Linked DNA regions of Homo sapiens: regions 2 and 3 are each linked to region 1. Evidence: fine-mapped expression QTL. A gene starts in region 1. Each other region holds a variant in brackets. All regions are shown on one strand. Distances are from middle to middle. Region 1 holds the start of ACOT7 (acyl-CoA thioesterase 7). Region 2 overlaps ACOT7 (acyl-CoA thioesterase 7). Region 3 has its middle 10 kb from the start of DNAJC11.

Evidence for each region. PIP is the estimated chance that this variant, and not a neighbour inherited with it, causes the effect.
Region 2: its variant is the best candidate, but not a certain one, in a credible set for the expression of ACOT7 in fibroblasts (GTEx, PIP 0.71).
Region 3: its variant is the best candidate, but not a certain one, in a credible set for the expression of ACOT7 in spinal cord (GTEx, PIP 0.70).

Annotation. Positions count from the first base shown.
Region 1 is chr1:6,389,746-6,399,630 of GRCh38, forward strand. ACOT7 (acyl-CoA thioesterase 7) reads right to left here and starts at 4,022. Exons shown (of 9, transcript NM_007274.4): 1 at 3,512-4,022. The coding sequence starts at 3,654. RefSeq lists silencers at 3,333-3,422, 3,693-4,142 and enhancers at 3,371-3,882, 3,883-4,395, 4,396-4,906, 5,659-6,183.
Region 2 is chr1:6,268,841-6,278,725 of GRCh38, forward strand. All of the region lies in intron 8 of ACOT7 (acyl-CoA thioesterase 7), which reads right to left. Among named protein-coding and RNA genes, the nearest start is that of GPR153, 13 kb to the left of the region's middle. RefSeq lists enhancers at 839-1,430, 1,431-2,021, 6,164-6,754 and a silencer at 4,783-4,949. The variant G/A (reference allele first, on the strand shown) is at 5,401.
Region 3 is chr1:6,706,917-6,716,801 of GRCh38, forward strand. No RefSeq gene overlaps it. Among named protein-coding and RNA genes, the nearest start is that of DNAJC11, 10 kb to the left of the region's middle. RefSeq lists an enhancer at 7,373-8,194. The variant T/A (reference allele first, on the strand shown) is at 5,913.

The sequences.
Region 1 (9,885 bases):
GCCTGGGGGACAGGGCAAGACTCCCTCTCAAAAAAAAAAAAAAAAGAAAGAAAAAAAAGCCCCTATCCCTTCAACAATGTCTGAACTGAGAACATGTGACCATTGTGTCTAAGATGGTGGGAATTTGGACGTTCTCACCCCTGCTAGACTGTGACCCCTTAAGGCAGGGGCCACATTTTCCACACGTTTCCCTCCTGGTGCTATGCTTCTTGGCAGTGTCCAGTAAAGCATTGTTAAATTCATGGGCTTGGCTGTGCTAGGCCAGGAGGCTCCTCTTTCAACTTGGGGTGTCAGCTCAGATGTCCTTAAAGGGCTCCCCATCCTAGTACAGTCACTCTCCAGTGTCCTGCGGTTTCTCTGAGTCAAGCCGATGGAACCACAGCCTTCTCTTCACAGGCCTACCCCTACCACCACTCCCGCCTACTCCTTTGGCAGTCACGCTCTGCACCTGAGGCTCACCTGCTCACTCATGAGCAGGGGCAGCCAAGCATCCTCCTCACCAGTCGTCTGGCCAAGGCAGCCACTTAGAAACAATATGCAATTGGCCAGGCACGGTGGCTCATGCCTGTAATTCTCAGCACTTTGGGAGGCCGAGGCGGGCAGATCATCTAAGGTCAGGAGTTCGAGACTAGCCTGGCCAACATGGTGAAACCCCATCTCTACTAAAAATACAAAAATTAGCTGGGCACGGTGGTGCACGCCTGTAGTCCCAGCTACTCGGGAGGCTGAGACAGGAGAATCACTTGAACAAAGGAGGCAGAGGTTGCAGTTAGCCGAGAGTGTGTCACCGCACTCCAGCCTGGGTGACAGAGTGAGACTCCATCTCCAAAAAATAAAGAAACAATATGCAATTGTGAACCTGAGATAGCAGACTTGGTTTACAGTGGGTAAGAAAAAGCACACACACGGGCCAGGCGCAGTGGCTCACGCCTGTAATCCCAGCACTTTGGGAGGCCGAGGCGGGCAGATCACCTGAGGTCAGGAGTTCAAGACCAGCCTGGCCAACATGGTGAAACCCCGTCTCTACTAAAAATACAAAAATTAGCCAGACATGATGGCGGGTACCTATAATCCCAGCAACTCAGGAGGCTGAGGTGGAAGAATCGCTTGAACCCAGGAGGCAGAGGTTGCAGTGAGCTGAGATCGTGCCATTGCATTCCAGTCTGGGTGACAGAGCGAGACTGTCTCAAAAACAAACAAACAAACAAACAAAAAGCACACACTTACTGTATGGAAGTGTCTAAAGCTATACAAAAATCTAGTAACTAGGCTAGGAGCAGTGGCTCACGCCTGTAATCCCAGCACTTTGAGAGGCTGAGGCGGGAGGATCACCTGAGGTCAGGAGTTCAAGACCAGCCTGGCCAACATGATGAAACCCCATCTCTACTAAAAATACAAAAATTAGCTGGGCGTGGTGGCGCACGCCTGTAGTCCCAGCTACTCAGGAGGCTGAGGCACAAGAACTTTTTCCAGCTGGGTGCGGTGGTTCACACCTGTAATCCCAGCACTTTGGGAGGCCGAGGAGGGCAGATCACAGATCACCTGAGGTCAGGAGTTCGAGACCAGCCTGGCCAACATGGAGAAACCCCATCTCTACTAAAAACACAAAAATTAGCCAGGCGTGGTGGCGCACTCTTGTAGTCCCAGCTACTCGGGAGGCTGAGGCCCAAGAATCACTTGAGCCCAGGAGGCAGGGGTTGCAGTGAGCTGAGATCGGGCCACTGCACTCCAGCCCGGGTGACAGAGTGAGACTCTGTCTCAAAAAACAAAAAATCTAGTAACTGTTAGAAGCTGGGTGAAAAAAGACAACATGTATAAATTGGCTATTCACCACCCTGAAGAAGTAAATAAAAGGCCAGCCTTCCACGGGAAGATTTAAATCAAGGTTTCCTTTATTCAGGAGAGGGGTGGGAAGAATACTGGATCTGGAGTCAGAAGACTTGGGCAGGGGCTGTCCCTGGATCTCCTGGAGCAGGATGACCTTACACAGTTACTCAACTCCCAAAACTGCCATTTCCTCCTCCACACAGGTAAGGGTGGCACTACCGACCATCAACCTCCCAGGGAATTGGGCAAACCAAGTGGGATGAGACAGGTATAAGCTCTTTGCAAACCATGGAGCCCAAGTTTCCCAGCCAATACTCAGCAGAGCTGATTCAGGAACCTGATGCAGGCTGTCTGTCTCCAGTTATTTCCTTTTTTTTTTTTGCCCCGCTTTCCCCACCTCCAGAGTCGATGGGACCAGAACAGCCACAGAGCCAAAGTCAAAGGGGCAGGGCTCCCCCAAAGACGTTCCCCCTCTGGAAAAGTCAAAACCGACCTTGAGGTAAGGAGAGGCCCTCGACCAGGCCAGAAGATGAGACTGAGAGTCAAGAATCGCCATAGACCCAGGACTTGCTATATGCCCAGCCTTCCTGGAGATGTCAACATCTACAGGAAAGTAACTTGCTTCTATTGGACTTGGCTTGAGCCCAAGGTCAGTCTGTGATGCCCAACCCCCAAATGTGAGGAACCCACTACCAAAACAGAAAGCAGCTCTCACTCCTGGTAGTTCATCAAGCAGGATAGGACCGGTCGCAGGCCACAGAGCCTGTGTGCAGTGGCTGAAAACCTAGACTCCTTGTCCTCACTTAGCTCATGCACAAATGCCAGCCTGCTGCTTCCGATTCTGCCGAAGAGAACTGCAGAGTAACCTTCAGGCTGCCCTCCCCACCTCCTATGGGAAATGAGCTTGTTCATGATCTCCAGCCTCCAGCTTCCTCTGGGGGCCTGCATCTATCTACTCAGTACCTGGTGGAAGAAGAGGGGGTGCTCTAGAAGGACAACCCTTTGCCTCTATTGTGTAAGATGCTTTCAGGCCCAACAGACCACTGATTCCCTTTTCTTCATAGTAAACTGTTAGAGGTAGACAGTATTATCTGTTCTTCCTTTCAACACCTGCCCTCCCCCAAACCGAAGCAGTGCACTGAAGACGGTAGCTCTGCAACCTCCTCCCACAGGGGCACCCACCGAGGGGCTCGCGCGGCTCTGGGCACCTCCCCTCCACCTCTGGGGGCTTTGGTTAGCGCAGCACAACCGCCGAGGTAATGATCCCGAATCCTCGAGGAGGCTAAGCAGGACCACGGGGCTGAGGCTCCGGGATGCTCGGGCGAGGCCCGAGGCGGGGCGGCCCACGGGCGCCGGTCGCCGGGCTCTGGAGCTGTGCATTGACCTCCGCCCGCCCCGTCCCTGCCTGGCTTTCTCGCCCAAACGGCCCGTGGCGCGGCCGCCGCCCTGGAGATGCGGCCAGGAGGAGCCGGCTGGAGGCGGGCGGGGGCCGCCCGGCTTGTGCGGCATCGCGAGTCGCATCCCGGCCGGGCGGGCGTCCGGGGCGGCGGCGCGGAAGGCCGTGCGGGGAATCGGCGGGCGGGGGCGGCCTCGGCGGGTGGGGACCACAGAGCCAAGCGGGGCAGGCCTGGGGCGGTGACCGGCGCGCCTGGCCGCTGCAGGCTGCGCGCGGGCCCTCTCTTACCGGCAGATCTGGATGGCGGACGGCGTCTCGACGTCTGGGCCCGACATGCTGGGGGCTGCGGCGGCGGATGCGGCGGGCGGCTGCAGAAGGGCGCAGGTGTCTGGCAGGCCCGGCGCGGAATGAATGAGCCCGGGCCGCGCCATAAAGGGGGAGGGCAGAGGTGGAGCGATGGGGCTGGTGAGGCGGGGCCTGCGCGCCGGGGGCAATCGAACGCGGCCTCCCCGCGCCGACCCCGCCCCCGCGCCGGCCCCACCCCGAGCCCCGCCTCCCAGGCCGCCAAGGCTGCAGAGAGCTCGCGCGGGCGTACGATTCTGGCGGCGTGGGGGCCCAGGCAGCCGCCGCTTCCAGAAGGTTCGGTGGCGGTTGGGCCGCGCCGGTGCGGGGAAGGCCCGCTAGCCGCGGCAGCCGCGCCCGACCCGGTGGCAGCCCCGAGGGAAGCGTCTGGGGCGGCCTAAGTGGCGGAGCAGGGCGGACTTGGGCCCTCACTCTCCGCGCGGCGGTAAATATTTGTGCTGGGCGTTCCCGGCCGCCCGCGCCGCCGATTCGCTGCCGCGCCCAGTGCCTGGGCGGCCGGATGAGGTCAGAGCGGAAGGCGCGGCCCGGGCTCCTGGCAGTGGGGCCTGATTCCCACCCCCGCCCCCAACCCACCCCGGCACCAGTCGCCCGCATCGCGGCTCTCGCTAAGATCGGCCCTAAGAGAGAATGGAAGGCTGTTTCCTAGAAAGGAGCATTGGTGGCGGCTGCTGGGAAGACACGGGGAATGGAACGGGCCTTTGCTTCCGCAGCACAAAGCGTCACGAGGTGGGGAGGAGGAAAGGCCGGCGACTATCTACACCGCCGCCTGCAGCTTTTACTGGGAGCGCTGAGCGCCAGCCTGGAGGTGCACGTGTTGCAGTGAGGAGCCCTGAAACATGCGTGTTTTACTGCACAAGATGTGCCCTTGAATGGAGTCTAGGCCAGTCGGGGTCACCAAAAAAAATCCACCAAAAAACACCCAAGAAGGGAGAAGCGGTCACCCCCCACGTGCTGGAATGACAGCTTTTTACTTGCTAGGCAGTTGGACCTTTTCCGAATTTTCTACAATGCACATAGATTTGTACTTACATCTTTAAATTAAAACCCACGCAACTCCGGCTCCCTAGTGCAATTTGAACAACCCATTTACACTCAGCTAGGTAGCTCTGAAGGAACTGTGCCTCACCCCGGTCACCCTTGAGTTACCAGACCGTGGAGGCAGCCCACAGCATGATCTGTAGCTCCCAGAAGCAGGGGCAGTCAAAGTCAGAACTCTGTGATTTCAAGACTTTTATACTAAGAATTTTGTTTTTCTGTTTTCTTTTTTTTTTTTTTTTTTTGAGACGGAGTCTTGCTCTGTTGCCCAGGCTGGAGTGCAGTGGTGCAATCTCAGCTCACTGCAAGCTCCGCCTCCCAGGTTCACGCCATTCTCCTGCCTCAGCCTCCCAAGTAGCTGGGACTACAGGCGCCTGCCACCACGCCCGGCTAATTTTTTGTATTTTTAGTAGAGACGGGGTTTCACTGTGTTAGCCAGGATGGTCTTGATCTCCTGACCTTGTGATCTGCCCGCCTCTGCCTCCCAAAGTGGTGGGATTACAGGCGTGAGCCACCACGCCTGGCCTGTTTTCTTTTTTTGATATAGAGTCTCGTTCTGTCGCCCAGGCTGGAATGCAGTGGTGTGATAGCTCACTGTAACCTCTGCCATCCAGTTTCAAGCAATTCTCCTGCCTCAACCACACTGAGTAGCTGGGACCATAGGCATGCACCACCACGTTTGGCTTATTTTTGTATTTTTAGTACAGATGTGTCCAGAATTGGTGGGTTCTTGGTCTCACCGACTTCAAGAATGAAGCCGCGGACCCTCGTGGTGAGTGTTACAGCTCTTAAGGTGGCGCATCTGGAGTTTCTTCCTTCTGGTGGGTTCGTGGTCTCCCTGGCTCAGGAGTGAAGCTGCAGACCTTCACAGTGAATGTTAACGGCTCATAAAGGCAGTGTGGACCCAAAGAGCGAAAGAACAACACTCCTACAGCGTGGAAGGGGACCAGAGTGGGTTGCCACTGCTGGCTCGGGCAGCCTGCTTTTATTCTCTCATCTAGCCCTACCCACATCCTGCTGATTGGTAGAGCAGAGTGGTCTGTTTTGACAGGGTGCTGATTGGTGTGTTTACAATCCCTGAGCTAGACACAAAGGTTCTCCATGTCCCCACCAGATTAGCTAGATAGAGTGTCGACACAAAGGTTCTCCAAGTCCCCACCAGCGTAGTTAGATACAGAGTGTTGATTGGTGCATTCACAAACCCTGAGCTAGACACAGGGTGCTGATTGGTGTGTTTACAAACCTTGAGCTAGATACAGAGTGCCGATTGGTGTATTTACAATCCCTTAGCTAGACATAAAGGTTCTCCATGTCCCCACCAGACTCAGGAGCCCAGCTGGCTTCACCCAGTGGGTCCCGCACTGGGGCTGCAGGTGGAGCTGCCTGCTAGTCCCGCACTGTGTGCCCACACTCCTCAGCCCTTGGGTGGTCGATGGCACTGGGTGCCGTGGAGCAGGGGGCGGTGCTCATTGGGGAGGCTCGGGCCGCACAGGAGCCCATGGAGTGGGGGGAGGCTCAGGCATGGCGGGCTGCGGGTCCCGAGCCCTGCCCCGGGGGAAGGCAGCTAAGGCCCTGCGAGAAATTGAGCACAGCAGCTGCTGACCCAGGTGCTAAGCCCCTCACTGCCCGGGGCCGGCGGGGACGGCCGCGGCTCCGAGTGCGAGGCCCGCCGAGCCCACGCCCACCTGGAACTCGCCCTGGCCCGCAAGCACCGCTCGCAGCTCCGGTTCCGCCCACGACTCTCCCTCCACACCACACCGCAAGCTGAGGGAGCCGGGTCCGGCCTTGGCCAGCCCAGAAAGGGGCTCCCACAGTGCAGCGGCAGGCTGAAGGGCTCCTCAAGTGCCGCCAAAGTGGGAGCCCAGGCAGAGGAGGCGCTGAGAGCGAGCGAGAGCTGTGAGGACTGCCAGCATGCTGTCACCTCTCACAGATAGGGTTTCACCATGTTGGCCAAGCTGGTCTTGAACTCCTGACCTCAGGTGATCCACCCACCCCAGCCTCCCAAAGTGCTGGGATTACAGGCCTGAGCCACCTCGTCCGGACGCAGACTTTTGTTTTTTAGTGAGAATTAAGTTGATGCAAGCATCAAGGGCCCCCAAGCCTGTTCAAACACCACCTCTTCCCAATTGAATCCTGAAATGGTTGGAAGCAGTAACTAGATTTAGAGCCTCAGGCAAGGTAGTTTCCTTTTTTTTTTTTTTTTTTTTTTTAAATCTTTTGAGACAGAGTCTTGGCTCTGTCACCCAGGCTGGAGTACAGTGGCACAATCCCTGCTCACTGCAGCTTCTGCCTCCAGAGCTCAAGCAGCCCTCCCACCTCAGCCTCCTGAGTAGCTGGAGCCACAGGCATGTGCCACCATGCTCAGCTAATTTTTGTACTTTTCTGTATAGAAGGAGCCTCACCACATTGCCCAAGCTGGTCTTGAACTCCTGGGCTCAAGTGATCCACCTGCCTTAGCCTCTCAAAGTGCTATGATTACAGGTGTGCATCACTGTTCCCAGCCTGGCAGTTTCTTTACCTATGATATGGGGGTGATAAATACTTTCCTGACCGTTGTGAGGACTACTTGGCAGGCTGAGGTAGGGCCTTTCTTCCTCTTCCCTCCTCAAACCTTCTGTTTCTCTATACTGCTCTTCCCCCAGCTATGAGTGCAGCAAGAATTTACTAAGACCCCATGCTCCCTGTATAGGTGTGCTTGCTCCTCTGAGCATTACAGACACTTCATTGTTCAAAATCTTCTAAATCTGCCTGGCATGGGGGCTTGCACCCATAATCCCAGGAGGCTGAGGCAAGAGGATCCCCTGAACCTAGGAGTTTGAGGCTGCAGTGCCCTCTGATGGCTCCTGTAAACAGCCACTGCACTCCAGCCTGGGCAACATAGACTCTGTCTCTTAAAAAAAAAAAAAGTTCAAATGCTGCTTGGGACACAAATCAGGGACACAAAAAGCCAGATTCCAGCCACACACTGAACCAGAGGGAATCTTAGACAAGGATGGGCCAAGTGGTTTAGAATGAAATAGCCTGGGCCCTCCAGAGTGAGGCCAAAAAGTGATCTGGAACAGTTCCTATACTTTTGGGAAAGGGTGTGGCTACCCTTCCACCTGAGACAGCATCTGTCCCTCCTGCTCACATCACTACCCCGAAGGTGGTAGAGGGACCCAGAAAAGATAACAGCTCAGCCCAGAGATTATCATGTACCCATTCTGCACTGTAGAAAGAAAATAGTGCTCCAGATTACTACTTATGATGTTGCCCTGTTTTTAAGGATGGCAATGGGGGCGCCCAATTCCTCAGCAAAAACCTTGTGAATGATTTTGGCCATAGTGCTAATGGATTTACACTGATTTTGCACCTTCCACAGTCTCACCTTCTCGTGTTAGGCTATTTTCTACTTGCTCCTCAAGCTATGGGCCATTTCTATCCCTGCTTTCAGCAAAACATCTCAAAAGAGCTGCTTACACACACACCCTCTCCCCTCACCTCCCATCCTCCTTTGAACCTGTTCCAGTTTGGTTTTTGATTCTACCAGTCAATCTATCAAGGTCACTAATTCCTTCCAAGTTGCTAAATCCGATAATCTGTTGTCAGAAGTCATTTTCCTTGACCTCTCAACGGCATTGAGCAGATGTGACCTCCCTATCCTGGAAGCGCTCCTCCCTCACGTCCGTCTTCCTCCCTCGCTGGCCACTGCTCAGCCTGCTCTGCTGGCACTGCCTCCCTGCCTCCTGTCAGAACTTTAGACAAGCCCCAAGCAGTGCTTGAACTCTTGAGGTCTCATTCTGTCTCATCACTTTTTTTTTTTTTTCCTTCAGACAGGGTTTCATTCTGTCACCCAGGCTGGAGCACAGTGGTGCAATCACAACTCACTGCAGCCTCGACCTCCTGGGCTCACATGATCCTCCCACATCAGCCTCCTGAGTAGCTGAGACCACAGGCACACACCACCATGCCCGGCTATTTTTTGTATTTCTTTATAGAGTCTGGTCAGGCTGGTCTCGAACTCCTGGGCTCAAGCGATCCACCCATCCTGGCCTCCCAAACCAAAGTGCTGGGATTACAGGCATGAGCCACCATGCCTGGCTGTCTCATCACTCTAAATTTATTGTTATTTTTATTTTTTTGAGACAAAGTCTCGCTCTGCTGCCCAGGCTGGAGTGCAGTGGCGCGATCTCGGCTCACTGCAACCTCTGCCACCCGGGTTCAAGAGATTGTCGTGCTCCAGCCTCCAGAGTAGCTGGAATTACAGGCCCCCACCACCACACTCAGCTAATTTTTTTATTTTTAGTAGAGACAGGGTTTCACCATGTTGGCCAGGCTGGTCTTGAACTCGCGATCTCAGGTGATCTGTCCGCCTTGGCCTCCCAAAGTCCTGGGATTACAGGCATGAGCCACTGCACCCAGCCTGTCTCATCACTTTAAGTCCCATCTGTATAATACATATCTCTGGCCAGCTCAGAGCTCTCCCCTAAATTCCAGATCCATGTATCCCTTGTCTGCACCAAATCTCACTTTGGTTGCATGGCAGGTACCCGACACTCACCTTGTCCTGATGCCCCTCAGAAATGGCCATCCCAGGAAATTGCAGTCCCGTCCCTCCAGTTGGTCAAGCCAAGACCCAAGGAGTCACCCGTGACTCTCTCTCTCCCTCACACCCCTCATCCAAACCATCAGCACATCCTGCAAGCTCTGCCTTCACAATGAATCTGGGATCTGAACAGTCCTCACTGTGGCATTCAGGGTTCTGCCCCACAGCCACATCCACGCTTCTGACCTCATGAGCTCTCTCCCCTGGCTCACTTAGCTCCAGCCACCCTGAGCTCCCGGACAGTCTTCGAATGTGCCGGACATATCTCAGAGGCTTCACGCTTGCTCCTTCCTCTGCCTGGGCCACCCTTTACTCAGGCAAACATCACCTTCTAAATAAGGCCTTCCCCAGCCATTCTCTATTAGGCCCATTGCAGTCCCCCCACTCTTCTCCAGTACTCCCAGTTTTCCTCCCTGGTTTATTTTTCTCGTTAGCACCTAACACCATTTAATACGTATTGCACCCATATGTTTATTGCCTCTCCCCCAACTAGAAGGTATAGAGCAGGAATTTTTTACTGTTTTATTCACTGCTGTATCCCAAGCTCCAAGAAGAGTGCCTAGCACATAGTAGGTACTCAATAAATATTTTATGAATGACTTCATAGAGATAATTATTATATCAACAGCAGATATTAATTCATTATATTTAGCTTATACTCTTTAAAAATATTGACAAA
Region 2 (9,885 bases), 120 kb before region 1:
AACTTCCTACAGCTCTCGGCATCTTTACCAGAGATGTGACCACAGCCCTCCAGCCGCCGAGGGCGTGGGAGGACCACCCAACTCTGGGTCTGCAGAAGGCACTGCAGACGAGAGCCCTCCCACCCCTTTGCCCCCACATGGGCTGTGCACGTGGGGCAGGGACTACAGCGATAAGGGGATATTCCCTGCGCAACCCATGCTTAGGGCGCGGCAGGCTGTGCACATCAGGGTCTTCCCAACAACCCCACCAAGCAGCACAGAAATGATTGTCCACTTTTACCAATGAGGAAGTGAAGCACAGACAGGCTGAGTAACTTGCCCAAAGTGACACAGCGGGTAAGGGGAGAGCCTCCATTTAAACCTGGGCATGGGGGCTGCCCTCCAGGTCGTCCTATGCCGAGGGACTTTTAGGGGTGGGACTCGTCCATGGGAAGTGAGGAAGGCGATGGACCTGCAGCGTGTCCACGATGAACCAGGGTCAGGGGCTTCCCTGCCTCCCCTCACCTCACCCCGGCCCTCGGCACAGCCTAGGAGCACTTGCTGAGCTTGGCCTCCCCCAGGCGGGGGCCCTGCCCTGCCCTCAGCCATATTATCCCAAACCACTACAGCTGCTCCCACCCCAGCGGCCACCAGGCCATCGAGCATTCCCAATGCCACAGGCCGAGGGCTGTGACTGCTTCTCTCGAGGTCAGTTAATACACAGCCTGAGGCGGGCACGAGCCCAGGTGCAGGTCATTCTCAGGGTCGGCTCCAGGCTGAGGGAGAATCTGGTGCCCAGCAACGGGCCCCAAGGCGGCTCTGATGTGGCCCTGCTCTTTAATATTTGCAGCAAACTCATCAGCCAGGCTCTGCCCTCAGACAAAGCAAATGCTGTCTGATGATGGATGGATGTGTGGGAGCCTGAGAGCCTGTGAGGGCCCCACTGCTCTTCCCGTCTCCCGGGATGGTAGTATCTGCTGGATGTTCCAGGCTCTGAGACAGAGTCCAGACCAGCCCAGGAGCCTCAACGTCACTGCGTGGAGTGCCCGCCCATAAGCGCTGCCCTCCCAAGGTGCGGGCGGCCTTCCTCCCTGAGTGCCCAGGGGCGCCCTTCCAGGGTGAAGGTTTATGAAGATGGCAGTCAAGGGCAGGGATGTCCCAGGTGCCTGAGGACCCAGGCTCACCACCCAGGGGGAGGTGGAACAAAGGGCCGCGGGGCGGTGTCTGTCCCATGGTAGGTTACGGGCTCACTGCTGGTGGGCAGCCAGCCTCCCCAGGTCATGGCTTTGCTAAATAGTTCTCCTACCCAAGTGACAAAGGGGCCACCCTGTCCCGCTGGGTGAGAAGCTGACAGAGCAAGACAGATGTCTCCAGCACAAGGCCCCACCCACGGCCCGGCTGCTGCCTCCTCGCAGCCATCTCCCTCCACCCAGCAAAGTAAATAAATGCATACGCTGTTGGCTGTTGCTGTTTTTAATGGAGGGTTGGGGGTGGGTGGAGGACGAAAGAACGCTCTGCGGGAAGACAGATGTCTCTCTCAAGTCCCCGAGGCTGCTGGTGGGGGAAGGACTGGAGCCTCTGGGGCACTGGCCAGTGGTGCCAGCTGCCGGGCACCCACCTGTGGCCTCAGGCAGGCTCCTCCGAGCCTCTGGGGCTCCCCAAGAATATGCCAGAGAGAAAGGATGAGGTGGCAAAGGGCAGCTCAGGGCACATGACCCCCATGTATCCCGGGCACCTGCCTGATGGAAGGGATGGGGCAGCATGGCCAGGAGCAGGACTCTGAGTCCCACGGGCCCAGCTGTGTGGCCCAGGGCCAGGTTTGTTCACCTGGAAACAGGAACTCAACAAAGTGACATGGCAAAGTGCTTCCTATGGTGCCGGTGCACGTGAGCTCCTACGTGTGTGTGCACATGTGTCTGCGGTCCCTGGTGCATGTGTGTGTGTCTGTGTGGTGGTCCTGCTGTCCTCAGAAATACCTGAGGCCAAGTGCAGCCTGGGAACTGCTCCAAGGACTGTCCTGCTGGTGTGTGGCTGCCCCAAAGGAGGGCCAGATGGCCCGGGGTCACCTTAACGCAGCGGGCCCTTTAGGATGTCACACCCACACATGGGGACGCAGGGGTGGGGAGGGTCCCAAGGTAGCAGGTTGACAGTACGCTCCCTCCCTGGTGCTCAGGGAGCACCGCCTGGCACTCAGCACCAAGCCCCTGGCTCCCCTGCAGCCTAGTGGCTGCCTGGGCCTGGGGTCTGCATCTTTTTCCTCCCTCCACTTAGTGCTTCCTGCCACTGCTGTCTTCTGGGCTCTCTTCCACTGGAGGGGAAGCCTGTGGCTTTCAGAGCCAAGTGCTGCAAACCAAATGTTTTCCACTTTGCATTTTCTGTGCTTGGAGAACACACATTTGGAACATGGTATGGAGGACGAGTGACTAAGTTCCACCCTCGGTAAAATCAATAGCTTGTCCTTTTTGTAATTAATGAATGGCGTAAAAAGGGTTTCCAGTGGTGATATAACAACTTCCTGTAAGCCTGAGGGACACAGACCTTCTTAATTAGGAAGCCACGTAGCATGCCCTCTCCCTGTTATAACAGGAGACAAGAGGGGTCTTGGGATAATCACAAAAGCAATGAAAACATCTCATTATTGAGGACACTCAGCACGGCCGGGCGAGGGGCCTTGTGCATGGAGAAGCCAGCAATGATGAGCTTAGCACCAGGACCACCAGCCTCACAAGCACCTGTGCCCCCAGGGTCTTGCTCCACCTGAGGACCTTGCCTTAGCGGAGCCTGTCCGCCATCCGCTGTGGCCTCTCCGCCATCCGCTGTGGCCTCTCCCAGCAGCTGCAGGCCTGGGTTAATTACCTCCTCCTCCACACCCACCCAGGACTGCACCAGCCTCCAGCAGAAAGCAGCCGGAAGTCTCAAATAATGAGATCATTGTGGAGAGTCATAAACACCCTCACCAGGGGCTCCCCTCACCCAGCAGCACCGGCTCAGACTCCGAAAGAACTGCCCCCAAGTGGGGCCAAGAAAGGAGGCGTAAAGGCCAACGGGAGGCTGCTGGCGGAGGCAGGGAGATCGTCACCACAAAGGGGAGAAAAGGCATTGGGACTTGGGCCTGGGTGGTGGCCTCTCAGGAGCCCCTCCTGCAGGCACGGAGTGCCGTGGTCCCGGGACGCTCGGCTCACAGCTCTTGTGCCGGAGTGTGGACATGGCGGTCCCCACCCTACAACACCAATAATGATCATAGCTGTCACCTGCTGAGTGCCCACTGTGGGCTAGGCCTGGGCCAGAAGCCGCGTGCTCATGGCACACCTCTGCTGTGCGTGTGCCCACTCTGTGCTATGCCCTGTGGAGCCCTTCCTGTCCTGCTGGAGGCCAGCACCATGCCTGGACATAGCAGGGGCACAGGAGGTGTTTGCTGGATGGATGAATGAATGAATGAATGAATGATCAAACAAATGAAGATCAAAAAGGCTTAATTCTAAATAGGGATGGTCTTTATGTTAACAATTCAAAACCAGTACTTCTGCTCAATGAACACTGGCATCATCTGTCCCCAATCAATTCCAGGGGGCTCAGACCATGGAGGGTCTGAACAGGAGCCTGCAACAGTGACAAAGATGAGATGAGAGTGTCCAGCACACCTAGGCTTGGCCATCCCCCTGGAGATGGGCCAGCTCTGTGGCCATGCTGGGGACTTGCTTCTGATCCTGCACACACAGGTGGGGAGGGCTCTGCATCCTTTCTACCACCGTGTGGGGCACAGGGCCTGTTTCTTCCTGCACCTTTGCTTGCAGGGCTCAAGATGTGTGTCTGGCCGCAAAGAGCCTTTGCCAGGACACTCCACACCCCTTGCTGAGAGCGCCGAGCCAAGTGGGCGGCCTCCAGCCCCAGGATACTCCAGGCATGAACTCGCCCTGCTGAAAAACTCCAAGTCCCATGGCCAGGACCTCACATGGGCCCAACAACCTTTCCAGGCCTCCCTGACAGATCTCTCGCTCACCTTCCGCAGCACCCTGGGTCTAGCCGGGATGCTCCCTCGGTTCACTGAATCCTCTGGAAATCCCACCCACGGGCCTCTCCTGGTACAGCCCCCCTCCTGGCAGTGCTCACTCTGTCCGTGTCACAAATCTGACAGCAGTGGGGACAGAGAGGCCCCAAGGCTCCATCCCACACTCTGTTGTATGCCCCCCAGGCCTGGCTCTGAGCAGAGCCTTCTGTAAACCTCCAGGGGGAGAACATGAGCAGCTCACTGTGCCCAGGTGGGTTTTTAACCCCCCGCAGCCGGTTAGGCCACAGTGGCATCAGAAGAGCTACCTACCAGTGCCGCTCAGAAGGGCCAGTGTGTGGCTGTCTGGACACAGTGGATCTTTCAGAGATATATGCAGAGCAGAAACATGAAAGGTGGCTGGAGAAAGAGTCTGGGCTCAGGCAGAGGGAAGGCGAGAGCCAGGCTGGAGGGGAGGGCTACATGCTCTCATCTGCGCCAACCTCCTTCTCAGCACCCATGCTCGGGTTCTAGGCACATGGGACTCACTGGCCACCGGATGTTCCTAAGCGCTAACCAATGAGGCGACAGGGGCAGCTTCAGGATGCAGGTATTTTCCCATCACAAGACTGACTCCCGCTAAATGCAGGCAAAAGGAACAGAGAGCACGACACTGGATTCTGAGCCTCATGAATATTCCAGTCCATGACTCACGCCTGTGGGCTGGCAGCAAGGTGGGGGCAGGAGGGGGGCAGGGCTTCCCTCACTAATGGCCAAACGCGGCAGGCGGTTCACCAAGCCCTTCCAGGAACACACCGTCAACCTTCTGCACTCCAGTAACAGCTGAATTTCCTAAATTAGTCAACAATTAAAAAATTATTCCAAAAGTCCAATCTTGGCCAAACAAACAAAGGAAGCCAGTGTAAGAGCCCGCACACGGGCGCAGCGGTGCCCATCCCAGGGCGAGTGCAGAGGCTGCGCGCGGCCACCACACAGTGCTTCCGCCCACTCTTTTGCTAGTGAAATTCTCTGGGAGTAGGTGCGGCCCCTCCCTGCCAGCAGGAGCCTGTGGCAACGGGGTGTCTAGGATGTCGAGGCAGCAGAGACCCTAGGGCCCTGCCCCGTGACAAAGGCCCCACGTGGGGACCTCTTTCTCTGTCCTACATCCTGGGACCGGACCTCTCTTCTTGTCCTGGTCCGGCCTGGACACGGTCAGGAATGGCCACCTCTGCTCCTGAGGCTTCTTCGAGAGGAACGGGGCCCATGCGAGGACCCCAGGCCCCTCTGCACACCGTGCCTGGGGGTCAGGCAGGTCCTGGGGGTGGGGAGCAGCAGGCACCATCATGGAAAGCTTGCCCCATGCTTCCTCCTAAGTGCAAAGGGGCGAGGGACCTTCCAATTACAGCATCACTGAGAAGGCACGGAGAGGGAACTTG[G/A]GGTAACAGCCTGGCGACGGCTCAAGACAGCCACAGCCAAGAGGCATCTCCAGCCTGCTCTGTCTGCAGCCCCCACATCAGTGCGTCACAAAGCTGTGGCCCTCAGCACTGCATGGCAGACAACTTCCAGAAGGCTGCAGAGGGCCTTTCAGCTGACTTAAGCCCTGGGGCCCATCCCGCCCCTCCAGCTGAACAGCAGGTCAAACAGTGCCCTCCTTCCGGACGCTCCAGCCCATGCCACGCTGTCCTCTCGGCTGGCGCGGGGCTTACCCGGCCCCTGCACTCATGCAGGTGAACCAGCTGAGGCCAGGAGAAGGAGGTCATAGGGCAGCAGCAGAAGCGAGGTGGGCACCATGTTCCAGAGCCTTCTGAAAGTTGTGTGGGTCTGTGCTGAGGCCACGCCTCACATAAGGCCCCAGCAGAGGCAAAAGAATCAAACTGGAGTGGAAAACTTTCCACTAAAATGTGCCCCAACCCCCACACTCCACAGTGGCCTGTGGAGGTTCAGTCACCTGCCCAGCACTGGTCCTGAGATCATCTGGGGCTGAAGCAAAGGCCCTGGGCTGAGCGCGGTGTGGGTGGGCGGCGCAGTGCAGGTGGGCAGCGCGTTGGGACTCCCAGGGTTTAGGTTCTTGCACAGAAGGGTTCTCAGGCAGGGCTCCTCCCAGGACCCCACAGTAGGGCCTGGCTGGGAGAAAGCACAGTGGCATCGATGACAGCAGTGAGCGGCCCCCTTTCCCAGTCAGTGAAGTCACAGATGGGCCTGCTGGCCGTGCGACCCCTGGCGAGTGACTCCCTGCCTGGTGCCCGCCTCCTGTCTGGGGATGGGAAGCATCTGTGAGCAGACACACCAGCTCGCAGAGGGGTTGGCGTTCCCTGAAGCCTCCGGCTTCAATGACCTGTACCCAGGCACCACCCAAGAGGAAGCCTCCCCTGCCCCTCCAGTCCCTTGCCCACCCAGGAGACAGGCAGCAGCCTCTGCATCCAGCTGCCCTGGCTTCCTAACCAGAAAACAAACCTGCTGAGAATGGCCCCCGGCCTGGTAGGGCTCCCTCAACCTGAAGGAGCCCAAGGGTCTCAGGGCCTCTTCTAGGTCGGGGCACGTCAGAGCGGACAAAGCTCAACAGGGTGCGTTTTCCCTGAGTTCTTGGAACTCCCCTGGCTATGCATGAGGCAGCTCTGAAAGGCAAGGTAAAGATGGCCACAGCTAGGCCAGGCGCGGTAGCTCACGCCTGTAATCCTAGCACTTTGGGAGGCCGAGGCAGGTGGATCACGAGACCAGCCTGGCCAACATGGTGAAACCCCATTTCTACTAAAAATACAAAAATTAATAAGGAATGGTGGCATGCGCCTGTAATCCCAGCTACTCGGGAGGCTGAGGCAGGAGAATCGTTTGAACCCGGGAGGCAGCGGTTGCAGTGAGCCGAGATCCAGCCATTGCACTCCAGGTTGGGCGACAGAGTGAGGCTCCGTCTCAAAAAAAAAAAAAAAAAAAAAAAAAGATGGCCGCACCTGCCTTCATTACTGCCTCCCACTTCCATCCAGAAAACATTTCGGTGGCTAAAGACTGAAGCTCGGAGTCCTGGGCTGGCCACCTCGGGAGATGTGTGTTCATGAGCACCAGAGAGACCCTCTGGGATGGGCTCCCTCCAGTTTGGAAGCCTGCTTTGCAAAGACCCTGCCCTGCATAATGTGGTTGCACAGTTGGAGCCTCGGCTAATCTGGGGACACATCCCCTCCCCAGTGTGCCCAGGAAGCAGTGGGGTCACGGCGCTCACTCAGCCCTGACAGCCATGGAACAGGCTACAGGCTTCTCCCTGGTCAGGGGCCTCAGCGAGCCCCTCACCCCGCCCTGTCTACACCTCCTCCTCAGGCCCAGGCTGGGACCCACAAGTTCTCAGCCCCAACTCCCTGGGCCTGTAGAGGCTACAATGCCCACGCCTGCAAGAATCAGAGGCAAGTACAGCCCCCACCTGAGGTGCCAGGGACGTCCTCCGCTTCAGCAGACACACGGCTCTGACCCTCCTGCAGGCTGAAAAGCCTTCCCACATCTGTCTGCTGCCGCCTGCGTCCTGCTGTCCCTCCCCACAAGCCACTTCTCCAGCCCCCTTCGGCCCAAGGTCAGAGGGCACTGCCACGGGGAGGCCTGCCTCTACGCGCTGAGTTGGCCTCTTCTAATACGAGACCGAGACCGGGAAGTGCTGGCAGCTGCCCGGAGCGGGTGCGGCAGCCCCCAGCATAAAATATTCATGGAGACGCAACTCCAAGCAGAGAGGCTGCATCCGTGTCAGCCAGGCCCTGGGGAAGGGAGCTAAAAATAGACAGGAGGCTGAAGAAAGCTGACGTGGGGATGAGGGAGGCGACTGGGAGTAGGAGGAGGGGCCGCCAGGGCACATCTGGAGGGACGGAACGCACATGCAGGTTCACCGCACGGAGCACACACGTGCTCCCAGCCCAGAACTCGTGCTCATGTGGGCAGTCCCCAAGTGAGAGCTGAAAATCCCTCTCCGGGCAGCCTGCCCCGCCAGTGGCTATTTCTATCAACATCAACATTGACATCCATGGGCCCCAGGACACCTCAGTGAAGAATCAAAGACCATCTTTAATGAGTGAGAAATAACAGCGTAGATCAACATGACGCGGCCACACCCAGGGGATGGGCTGCCATTCCCTCCATTCAAGCTGGCGCCCTTCCCTGCCCCTCTGCAGCCCCTTCCCCCAGGGCTGGCCCTCCTCCTGCACTCTGACCACCCCCCCCCAGGGTATGGAGTTCTGGAAGGGGCGGCCCCAGGACTGCTCCCCAGCTGGCTCTGGGAAGGTCACAGGCGCGGCCCCAAAAGCCTCCGTGACCGCAGGCTGCTATCCACACAAGGGTGGACCCCCTCAGGTTGGACTCTATAGGGAGTGGGGAACGTGAGGCACAGAGGTCCCCTCCCTGAGAGCCCATGGATCGCTGGCCCCTCGTGGTCACTGCACTGGTCTCCCTGAACCAGCTGAGTGCTGGGGTAGGTGCAGTGGTCCTGACCCCACAACCAGTGTGCACAGCCCAGCTGGGGGCAGCCGGGAGAGGGAACCGTCATTGGTGGGCAAACACCAACCACGCCTGCAGCCGCTGCCAACCTGGGAGGATGCCCCCCACTATCAGCTTTGAAGGGCTGCTATTGGGAGATGCCCCAGGGCACCCCATCAACCTGCACTGAAGCCTGTTCAAAGCACAGGTCACCCAGATCCTCCTCTACTTTACGCCCATATGCGTGAGCCCCATAGACTCCCACCAGCCCTCTCTCCCCAGCCCTGCCCCGTCCTAGCCGGGTGGCCTCGGGTGTGTCACTGTCCCCAAGCTCCCCCGTTACAGACAGTGGCTCTGCGCCTTTGGCCCTCGCCGTTCCCTTCACCTGAATGGTCCCCACAAGACAGCTCCTGCCCTTCCTCCCTGACTCCAGGCCTCCGCTGAGGCTTTCCTTGGGAAGGAACATATTTAAAATTGTACCTGTCCCCCGGCACACTCCGATCCCCTCATTCCCTGCTGTCTTCTTCGTGACCCTGGACACCATTCAACTTCCTCTATCTTCACTGTTTGTTTACTCCTCCCTCTGAGAGGGTGTGAGGCCCCAGGGAGAGCAGGTGAACAGCAGCAGATGATGAAGGCCCCCCATCTTCACCCACCCCACATGGTGGGCACCGTGTCCATCACCACCGTACAGATGAGGAAACCGAGGCACATAGAAAGTGCGTGCCTAAGGCCACACAGCTAGTAAGTTTAGAGCTCTGGCTGACCCGGGCAGCCAGGCGCCTGCTCCTGGATATGTGAGCCTGACAGTCCACGCAGCGTCTGCAGTGGCGGGGGGTGGTTGGGAGGGGGTCTGGGGTGGCGGAGGCGACGCTTCTCTAGAGCGGTTGTGGGTGCCCTTCTAAGGAAAAAACGTCTGAGAAGTGCTGTAGCTCCAGGAGGCTCTGGGGAGGGTGGTCCAGATGGGAGCAGCAGGTGCACAGGCGCCGGGCAGGAGTGAGCTTGCTGCACCCACACCCAGGGCATGGAGGAGCCACCGTGCATTTCGGTGGGAGAGGGAGCAACTCGGATTTTGATGACCAGTTTCCTGGGCTGCAGGGAAGGGTCACATTGAGAGCACCAGGAACAGAGGAAGGAGCAGCTGAGGACTGAGCAGGGGCCCCATGGGGACGGGGCAGTAAGAGCTGTTCGGGAGAGGAGTGGAGCGGCACTGGGTGGGCGTGGGCATGGGGGGAGTAGGGAGGAGCCAGCTGGGTTCCCAGACTTCCAGAGCAGCACAGAGGCGGAGAGGGATTTTTTTGCGGGTGTGATAATGAGTTCCATTCAGGACAAACTGTATTTGTGATGCTTTTGGGAACCCTGTTGAGGGGCAGCACTGGCCAAGTCAATTTGGGAGTCAATACAACACACAGGCGATGCTCGAGGCACAGACCATGGATCTGACCACCCCAGGAGAGAAGGGCCACAGGTTAGGA
Region 3 (9,885 bases), 320 kb after region 1:
AAGGGGAACTTTGCCAGCATTCAATAATTAAATTTTCTTGATGTTATCTTCTTTCTGAGTATTCACTGACTAGTCTTTAGCCAAGATGATCATTACAGAAGGGTCGGGATACCCCGGGGGAAGAGCCACACCTGCCTCTTTGGAGATAGCCGCCCAGAGAGGCTGAGAATCTAACGCCACTCAGCATTTTACCTGCAATGTCATTCTTCCGTTGTGCCTGTGGGACTGGTTTTCACTGCTTGGGACTTTAGGTCCTTAGTCTCTATGTATTGATCTATCAAAATCCATCAGATCTCTTAGGGGTACCCCATTCCAGTCTGCTTTCTTGGCCGTTTCAGTGATACAGTCCTTTGTCCTTTGGCTCTGCCCAAAATTTATGTTGTCTCTGTTGTCAACCTTTCTATTCTCACCCAGGCTGTCAAGAGTAGGTGGAGAAAGTCTTGGAAAATACAGAGTTCGTGCTATCTAACTTCAACTGTACTGCAGTGTTACCTGGCAATCTTTTCATTTTCATCTCATATTAATAGCCTATACATTCCCCCCACCCTAGTGTCTATTCCTCTTATCCTTAAGTCTGAAGACAGAGTCCTGAAATGGGCACTAGAGTCTCAGCAATTCACAAGAGAGAAATGGGTGCTGTGCTAGTGAAAGTAACACTCAAGGCCGGGCGCCACATGAACACTCAGCGTGGCACGGGGCAGGTGCAGAAAAGAAACAAATTAGTGAATACACAAGATAATTTGAGATGATCAGTGTGTAAGTAAAATACAACATAGTGATGTAATGGTGGAACATCTCCGGTGCAGGAAAGGTACTCCACATTGGTTGGTCTGGGAAGATCTATCCCAGGAGGTGATTTTGAACTGAATGATGGGAAGGACCCAGCTTTGCAAGACCCAGCTTTGCAAGGGGGAAGAATCTCCAGGGCAAAGCCTTTGAGGCAGGAACAGGTTTGGTGTGCAGGACCAGGGAGAGAGCAGGTGAGCGCAGAGCTGACGAAGGTGGGAGAGTGATAGGAAAGGAGGTTAGAGAAGCCACACCAGGGCGGTATCACCAGGGGCCTTAAACATGGTGCTCAGCAATTGAAATTTCATTCTGGCCACAATGGGGAACCACTGAAGGATTCTAAGCAGGGAAATGACATGGTCTGATTTTTGTCCTACCTGAATGATCTCTCCAGGGAGATTGGATTCAAAGGAGCAAGAATGGAGGCATCCCCTCACCCCTACCCCATCAGAGGCTATTGCAGTGTTCCAAGGAACAGATGACGGTGGCCTTGGACTTAGACTCAGTCAGGAGCAATGGGAATGGTCACACATGGACCACACATTGGATTGGAGGCAACAGGAATTACTGATTGATTGGGCTTGGGGAATAAAGAAAAGAGAAGAATTGGTGGTTACTTCTATATTTTGGCTTGAGTTACTAGGTAGTAAGGCTGTTTGTGGAGCTGAGGAAGACTGGGGAAGAGGCAGGCTGGGGAGGGGAGTGACCAAGGGTCCTATTTTGTAGAAGTAGAGTTTGGTCTTTGTTGGACTTCTAAGTGGAAGCACCTACTGCTTCTCCTTCCTTTACCACTCACTCTTGGTGTTTTTTTTTTTTTTTTGAGACAGAGTCTTGCTCTGTCGCCCAGGCTGGAGTGCAGTGGTGCAATCTTGGCTCACTGTAACCTCCGACTCCTGGGTTCAAGCGATTCTCCTGCCTCAGCCTCCCACCATAACTAGATAATTTTTGTATTTTTAGTAGAGATGGGGTTTTACCATGTTGGCCAGGCTATTCTCGAATTCCTGACCTCAGGTGATCCCCCCGCCTCAGCCTCCCAAAGTGCTGGGATTACAGACGTGAGCCACCATGCCTGGCCACCACTCATTCTTGAATTCTTTGCTCATCCCATCATTTCATGAATATCACCTTCTCAAAGTTTCCTATTACTTCTTGAACCCAGTGGCCTTGTTTTCTTGCCATCTGCCTGGATTAGGCATTATTTAACAATATCACCTGACTTCTCTTCATTGTAACCTCTCTGTCCTTGGCTGGTGAGCTTTCTCTCTCTCTCTCTCTCTCTCTCTCTCTCTCTCTCTCTCTTTTTTAAGGAGATGGGGTCTCATTCTGTCACCCAGGCTGGAGTGCAGTGGTGTCATAATAACTCACTGTAGCCTTAAACTTCTGGGTTGACGTGATCTTCCCGCCTCAGCCTCTCCAGTTGCTGGGATTATAAGCATAAACCACCATGCTTGGCCTCTCTTAACTTTAATATTTCTCCAGATATGCTCCCCTTTCTTCTTCCTCCTGCCTGGGATTTAGGACCCTTGTTGATCTCGGTTCACATATTTTCAGCCTTATACCCTCCGGCTTTCCTTTATAGATCTTTGGTTCTAGTCAGAAAAATATATCGCTTATTCTCTGAACACTCCTTGAACGTCTTAGTTCTTCATTCTTTGCTGCGTCTCTGAGCTTCCATGTGGAGGTCATTGATCTTCAGCCCAAAAAACACCCTATGGAATTTCTCTGAGTTGGGGGGGCCTGCTCTTGGAGAACTCTCTCAGCTTCCGCTAATCTGAAAATGTCTTTTTCTTATTTTCATTAATAAAGGATACTTTCTCTGGGTAGAAAATTTGTTTTAGCAGTTATTTTGTCTTCCAGCACTTTGGTGATATCATTTCTCTTCCTTTAGGTTCTGTTAGAGCTATTGAATTCTTTCTTCTCATTTTGGGACTCCAAAAAAACACGGTAGACCTTTCAAGCATGTCATATCTGCTTTTTATTATTTCTTCTGTATCTTGCTTCTTTTTATTTCTATGGCTTCTTTGTGGATAGTTACCTCTGACCAATCTTCCACTTCACCAATTCGCTTGTTTTCCTAATTTTTTTTTTTTTTTTTTTTACTGCTTTATTGGTATAAAATGTGTCAACCGCCGGGTGCAGTGGCTCACGCCTGTAATCCCAGCATTTTGGGGGGCCGAGGCAGGTGGATCACTTGAGGTCAGGAGTTTGAGACCAGCCTGGCCAACATGGCGAAACCCCGTCTCTACTAAAAATACAAAAATTAGCTGGGCATGGTGGGGGGTGTTTGTAATCCCAGCTACTCGGGAGGCTGAGGGATGAGAATCACTTGAACCCAGGAGGCGGAGGTTGCAGTGAGCTGACATCATGCCACCGCACTCTAGCCTTGGTGATGGAGTGAGACTCTGTCTCAAAAAAAGAAAAAGAAAAACAAAAGTGTCAACCTAAAAAACAAAGAGAGAGAAGTTCTCCGAAAGAAAAAGGTATTGTTTGGGAATAGAGCATTGCAGTGGAAATATGCATGCCATGGTAAACTATGTGCATATTCAGACAGGAAGACACATTGTTTACAGGAAAAAATAAGGAAGAGATGGGGTGCAGTGGCTCACGCCTGTAATCCCAGCACTTTGGGAGGCCGAGGTGGGCGGATCTCCTGAGGTCAAGAGTTTGAGACCAGCCTAGCTAACATGGTGAAACCTTGTCTCTACTGAAAATTCAAAAAAAATTAGCTGGGTGTGGTGGTGTGCACCTGTAGTCCCAGCTACTTGGGGAGGCTGAGGCAGGAGAATCACTTTAACCCAGGAGGTGGAGTTTGCAGTGAGCCAAGATCGTGCCACTGCACTCCAGCCTGGTGACAGAGGGAGACTCCATCTCAAAAAAAAAAAAAAAAAAAAAAAGAGAAAGATTACATAATTGTTTTGAAATAATTATCCTTGCTACAAAGATCAGTAACAAGGGTGGCACCAGTCTGAGGTTGGACAGGCAATTGCCGAGCAGATGTCCTTGCAGAAGTATTTTTTGTGTAAGGTTGGGATGGCTGTTGCACTAGGTTGTGTTTTTTGCAACATTTGTGATAGTGTTTTATGAGGCATACAAGCATGAGAACCCTCTCTTCAGGACCTTCTCTGACTCATTTATCAGGGTTGGCCTTTTATTGTTGTTTTTTATTTTTTATTGATTCTGACAACTTGATTCTGATTTAAGGTGCAATAAAATGCATATATTTAAAGTGAACAATTTTATGAGTTTTGACACATGTACACCCATGAATCCATTAATATAATTAAAATAATGGACATTTCCAGCACACTCAAAAGTTTCCTCATGCTCCCTTATAATCTATTCCTCCCTTCACCCCCATGTCCAGGCAACCACTGGTCTACTATCTATTATTATAGACTAGTTGCATTTTCTAGAATTTTATATATGGAATCATATGGCTTGCTCCAATCCTGTATCTTCTCTATACCATCATTGTAGGATAACCCTTTTTCTCTCTCCAGTATTGGCATCCCTGTTTCCTGAATGCTCTGTTTCCTATTCTTTTGTCTGTTTTATTCCATTGTTTTGATCAACCAAGTCTTCTCACAATTTTTTGAGAACTTGGATATTTTTATTCCACCTGTATATTTGATAGTTTGATAGGTAGATTGTGTGGCTGGGTATAAAAGTCTAGATTGCAAAAATGTTTCCACAGACTTTTGAAGACATTATTATACCACCTTCAATTTCCCAGTATTGTTAGCACTAAGACTGATTCTGTCCTAGGCTTTGTAACTGTAATTTTCTTTCTTTGGAAGCATTGCTTTCATTCTTGGTGTTCTGAAATTCCATGTGATGTACTTTGGATGGGCGTTTTCTTGTTGTTGTTGTTGTTGTTGTTTTTGAGGCAGAGTCTCTCTCTGTCACCCAGGCTGGAGTGCAGTGGTGCGATCTTGGCTCACTGTAACCTCTACCTCCTGATTCAAGCGATTCTCCTGCATCAGCCTCCCGAGTAGCTGGGATTACAGGCGTCTGCCACCATGCCAGCCTAATTTTTGTAGTTTTAGTAGAGACGGGGTTTCACCACATTGGCCAGGCTGGTGTTGAACTCCTTACCTCTGGTGATCTGCCTGCCTTGGCCTCCCAAATTGCTGGGATTACAGGTGTGAGCCACTGCGCCCAGCCATGTTTTGGTCTTTTTTTGCGGGGCGGACTTCCCTCAGAGCTCTAGTAGTCTTTGGCTGTCTATTCATCGCAGCTCCATGTGCATGTTTGAAGCTATTCTTCTGGTGAGTGTCATGAAGAGTCATTAGGTCAGGTCCCCAGATGTTAGATCTGTAGATTTTCTTCCCCCTTGGGTGGATCAGTTTTATTTATTTATTATTATTATTTTTTGAGATGGAGTCTCGCTCTGTCACCCAGGCTGGAGTGCAGTGGCGCAATCTCGGCTCACTGCAAGCTCTGCCTCCCGAGTTCACGCCATTCTCCTGCCTCAGCCTCCCAGTAGCTGGGACCACAGGCGCCCACCACCATGCCCGGCTAATTTTTCATATTTTTAGTAGAGGCAGGGTTTCACCGTGTTAGCAAGGATGGTCTCGAGCTCCTGACCTCATGATCCACCCGCCTTGATCTCCCAAAGTGCTGGGATTACAGGCGTGAGCCACCGCGCCCGGCCGATGGATCAGTTTTCCCAGAGAGTTTTCCTCCTTTCTCCTGCCTGGGGAAGGTAAAAGCCCTGCAGGGGAAGGATCTGGGAATAGCATCTCAGTACCCAAATGTTCACAAAATTCCCTTTTTTGGAACAATATCTGGTGTCTAGCTATGTTTTGATATTGAGGCTCCAAAGTCTTCCTTTGGAGTTAATAAACTTCCCTTAGTGGTGGAGGTGGTGTAGTTGCATGGCTGCGTGGGCTGGGAAAGGAGATCTGGGGTTCTTATCTATTCTTTTTAAAGACTATCATCAACACTGCTGCTCAGCCTCCGATTCCTGACCACTCCTGGGTCCCGCAGCACAAACCAGCTTACTTTCCAGGTGGCACGGGCCCCTCCATTTTACATCTTCCAAAATTTCATTGATGTCTTTTGTCTGATATCATCTTCTCTTCCATTCCTTTTGTCCATAAGCATTTATAAATGTTTCTTTTTTT[T/A]AAAATTTTACTGAGATTTCTGGAGGGAACAAATGTAAGCTCTGGCATGAGTTTTCATCAGGAATAATGAAAGTCCCTTTGTACAACATAATATTATGCCACTTGTCCATTTGTACAACTTATATTTCATTTCCAAATTTCCTTCATTTAGAAATTTATTGGCCGGGCGCGGTAGCTCATGCCTGTATTCCCAGCACTCTGGGAGGCCGAGGCGGGCGGATCACTAGGTCAGGAGATCGAGACCATCCTGGCTAAAATGGTGAAACCCTGTCTCTACTAAAAATACAAAAAAATTAGCCGGGCGTGGTGGCGGGCGCCTGTAGTCCCAGCTACTCGGGAGGCTGAGGCAGGAGAATGGCGTGAACCCGGGAGGAGGAGCTTGCAGTGAGCTGAGATTGTGCCACTGCACTCCAGCCTGGGCAACAGAGCGAGACTCCGTCTCAAAAAAAAAAAAAGAAATTTATTTCTGGACCGGGCGTGGTGGCTCACACCTGTAATCCCAGCACTTTGGAAGGCTAAGGTGGTGGATCACCTGAGGTCAGGAGTTTGTGACCAGCCTGGCCAACATGGCGAAACCCCATCTCTACTAAAAATACAAAAATTACCCAGGCATGTTGGCGGGCGCCTGTAATCCCAGCTACTTGGGAGGCTGAGGCAGGAGAATTCCTTGAACCTGGGAGGCAGAGGCTGCAGTGAGCTGAGATTGTGCCACTGTACTCCAGCCAGAGACAAAGTGAGAACTTGTCTCAAAAAAACAAAAACAAAAACAAACAAAAAACTAAATTTAATTTCTCATTAGTCTGTAAACACCTTGAGAAAAGTGGTTGAAATATTTCTATTTCCAGCAGCATTGTGTGCCTAGCATACAATCAGTTCTTCGCGCATGTACCTGAAGGAATGTATTTAATGTACATAGTTCCCCCTCATCCACAGTTTCACCCTCTCAGGTTTCGGTTACCCATGATCAACTGCAGTTTGAAAACATTAAATGAGCCAAGCATGGTGGCTCATGCCTGTAATTCCAGCACTTTGGAAGGTTGAGGTAAGTGGATCCCTTGAGTCCAAGAGTTCAAGAGTGGCCTGGGTAACATGGCAAAACCTCGTCTCTGCAAAAAATACGAAAATTAGCCGGGTGTGGTGGCATGCGCTTGTCATCTCAGCTGCTTGGGGGGCTTAGGTGGGAGGATGGCTTATGCCCAGGAGATGGAGGCTGCAGTGAGCTCTGATGGTACCACTGCCCTCCAGCCTGGGCAATGGAGTGAGACCTCGTCTTAAAGAAAAGAAAAGAAATATATATTAAATGTGAAATTCTAGAAATAATCCATGAGTCTTTTGTTTTGTTTTGTTTTGAGACGGAGTCTTGCTGTGTCGCCCAGGCTGGAGTGTAGTGGCACGATCTCAGCTCACTGCAAGCTCCGCCTCCCGGGTTCACACCATTCTCCTGCCTCAGCCTCCTGAGTAGCTGGGACTACAGATGCCTGCCACCATGCCTGGCTAATTTTTTGTATTTTTAGTAGAGACGGGGTTTCACCATGTTAGCCAGGATGGTCGCAATCTCCTGACCTTGTGATCCGCCCACCTCGGCCTCCCAAAGTGCTGGGATTACAGGCGTGAGCCACCGCGCCCGGCCGAAATAATCCATGAGTTTTTTTTTTTAATTTAATTTAATTTTATTATTATTATTATTATTTTTTTTTTATTGATCATTCTTGGGTGTTTCTCGCAGAAGGGGATTTGGCAGGGTCACAGGACAATAGTGGAGGGAAGGTCAGCAGATAAACAAGTGAACAAAGGTCTCTGGTTTTCCTAGGCAGAGGACCCTGCGGCCTTCCGCAGTGTTTGTGTCCCTGGGTACTTGAGATTAGGGAGTGGTGATGACTCTTAAGGAGCATGCTGCCTTCAAGCATCTGTTTAACAAAGCACATCTTGCACCACCCTTAATCCATTCAACCCTGAGTGGATACAGCACATGTTTCAGAGAGCACAGGGTTGGGGGTAAGGTCACCGATCAACAGGATCCCAAGGCAGAAGAATTTTTCTCAGTACAGAACAAAATGAAAAGTCTCCCACGTCTACCTCTTTCTACACAGACACGGCAACCATCCGATTTCTCAATCTTTTCCCCACCTTTCCCCTCTTTCTATTCTACAAAACCGCCATTGTCATCATGGCCTGTTCTCAATGAGCTGTTGGGTACACCTCCCAGACGGGGTGGTGGCCGGGCAGAGGGCTCCTCACTTCCCAGTAGGCGCGGCCGGGCAGAGGCGCCCCTCACCTCCCGACGGGGCGGCTGGCCGGACGGGGGCTGACCCCCCCCACCTCCCTCCTGGACGGGGTGGCTGGCCGGGCAGAGGGGCTCCTCACTTCCCAGTAGGGGCGGCCGGGCAGAGGCGCCCCTCACCTCCCGGACAGGGCAGCTGGCCGGGCGGGGGGCTGACCCCCCCACCTCCCTCCCTCCCAGACAGGGCGGTTGGCCGGGCGAGGGGCTGACCCCCCCACCTCCCTCCCGGACGGGGCGGCTGGCCGGGTGGGGGGCTGACCCCCTCACCTCCCTCCCGGACGGAGCGGCTGGCCGGGCAGAGGGGCTCCTCAGTTCCCAGTAGGGGCGGCCGGGCAGAGGCGCCCCTCACCTGCCGGACGGGGCGGCTGGCCGGGCGGGGGGCTGACCCCCCCCACCTCCCTCCTGGACGAGGTGGCTGCCAGGCGGAGACGCTCCTCACTTCTCAGACGGGGCGGCTGCCGGGCGGAGGGACTCCTCACTTCTCAGACGGGGCATCCGGGCAGAGATGCTCCTCACATCCCGGACGGGGCGGCAGGGCAGAGGTGCTCCCCACATCTCAGACGATGGGCGGCCGGGCAGAGACGCTCCTCACTTCCCAGATGTGATGGCGGCCGGGAAGAGGCGCTCCTCACTTCCTAGATGGGATGGCCGCCGGGCAGAGACGCTCCTCACTTTCCAGACTGGGCAGCCAGGCAGAGGGGCTCCTCACATCCCAGACAATGGGCGGCCAGGCGGAGACGCTCCTCACTTCCCAGACGGGGTGGGGGCCGGGCAGAGGCTGCAATCTCGGCACTTTGGGAGGCCAAGGCAGGCTGCTGGGAGGTGGAGGTTGTAGCGGGCCGAGATCACGCCACTGCACTCCAGCCTGGGCACCATTGAGCATTGAGTGAACGAGACTCCGTCTGCAATCCTGGCACCTCGGGAGGCCGAGGCTGGCGGATCACTCGCGGTTAGGAGCTGGAGACCAGCCCGGCCAACACAGCGAATCCCCGTCACCACCAAAAAAATACGAAAACCAGTCAGGCGTGGCGGCGCGTGCCTGCAATCACAGGCACTCCGCAAGCTGAGGCAGGAGAATCAGGCAGGGAGGTTGCAGTGAGCCGAGATGGCAGCAGTACCATCCAGCTTCGGCTCAGCATCAGAGGGAGACCGTGGAAAGAGAGGGAGAGGGAGACCGTGGGGAGAGGGAGAGGGAGAGGGAGACCGTGGGGAGAGGGAGAGGGGATAATCCATGAGTTTTAAGCTGTGCACCATTCTGGGCAGCGTGATGAGATCTCTCGCTGTAAGCTTGATCCCGTCTGCAACGTGAATCCTCCCTTTGTCCAGCGCATCCAGGCTCTACCTGCTGGTTAGTCACTTAGCCATCTTGGTTGTCAGAGCTACTGTCATGGTATCACCGTGTTTGTGTTCAAGAAACCCTTGTAGTACTTAACATTGGCCCCAACTTGCAAGAGTAGTGATGCTGGCACATTGTTATAATTGTCCTATTTATTATTACTTATTGTTAATTGCTTACTGTGCCTAATATATAAATTAAACTTTATCATAGGCATGTAGTCTGTAGGAAAAAACAATATACATAGGGATGGGTACTATCTGAGGCTTCAGGCATCCGCTGGGGATCTTGGAACATATCCCCTGTGAATAAGAGGGGACTACTGTATGCTAAAACGGGGAGGAGAGAAAGAGCTG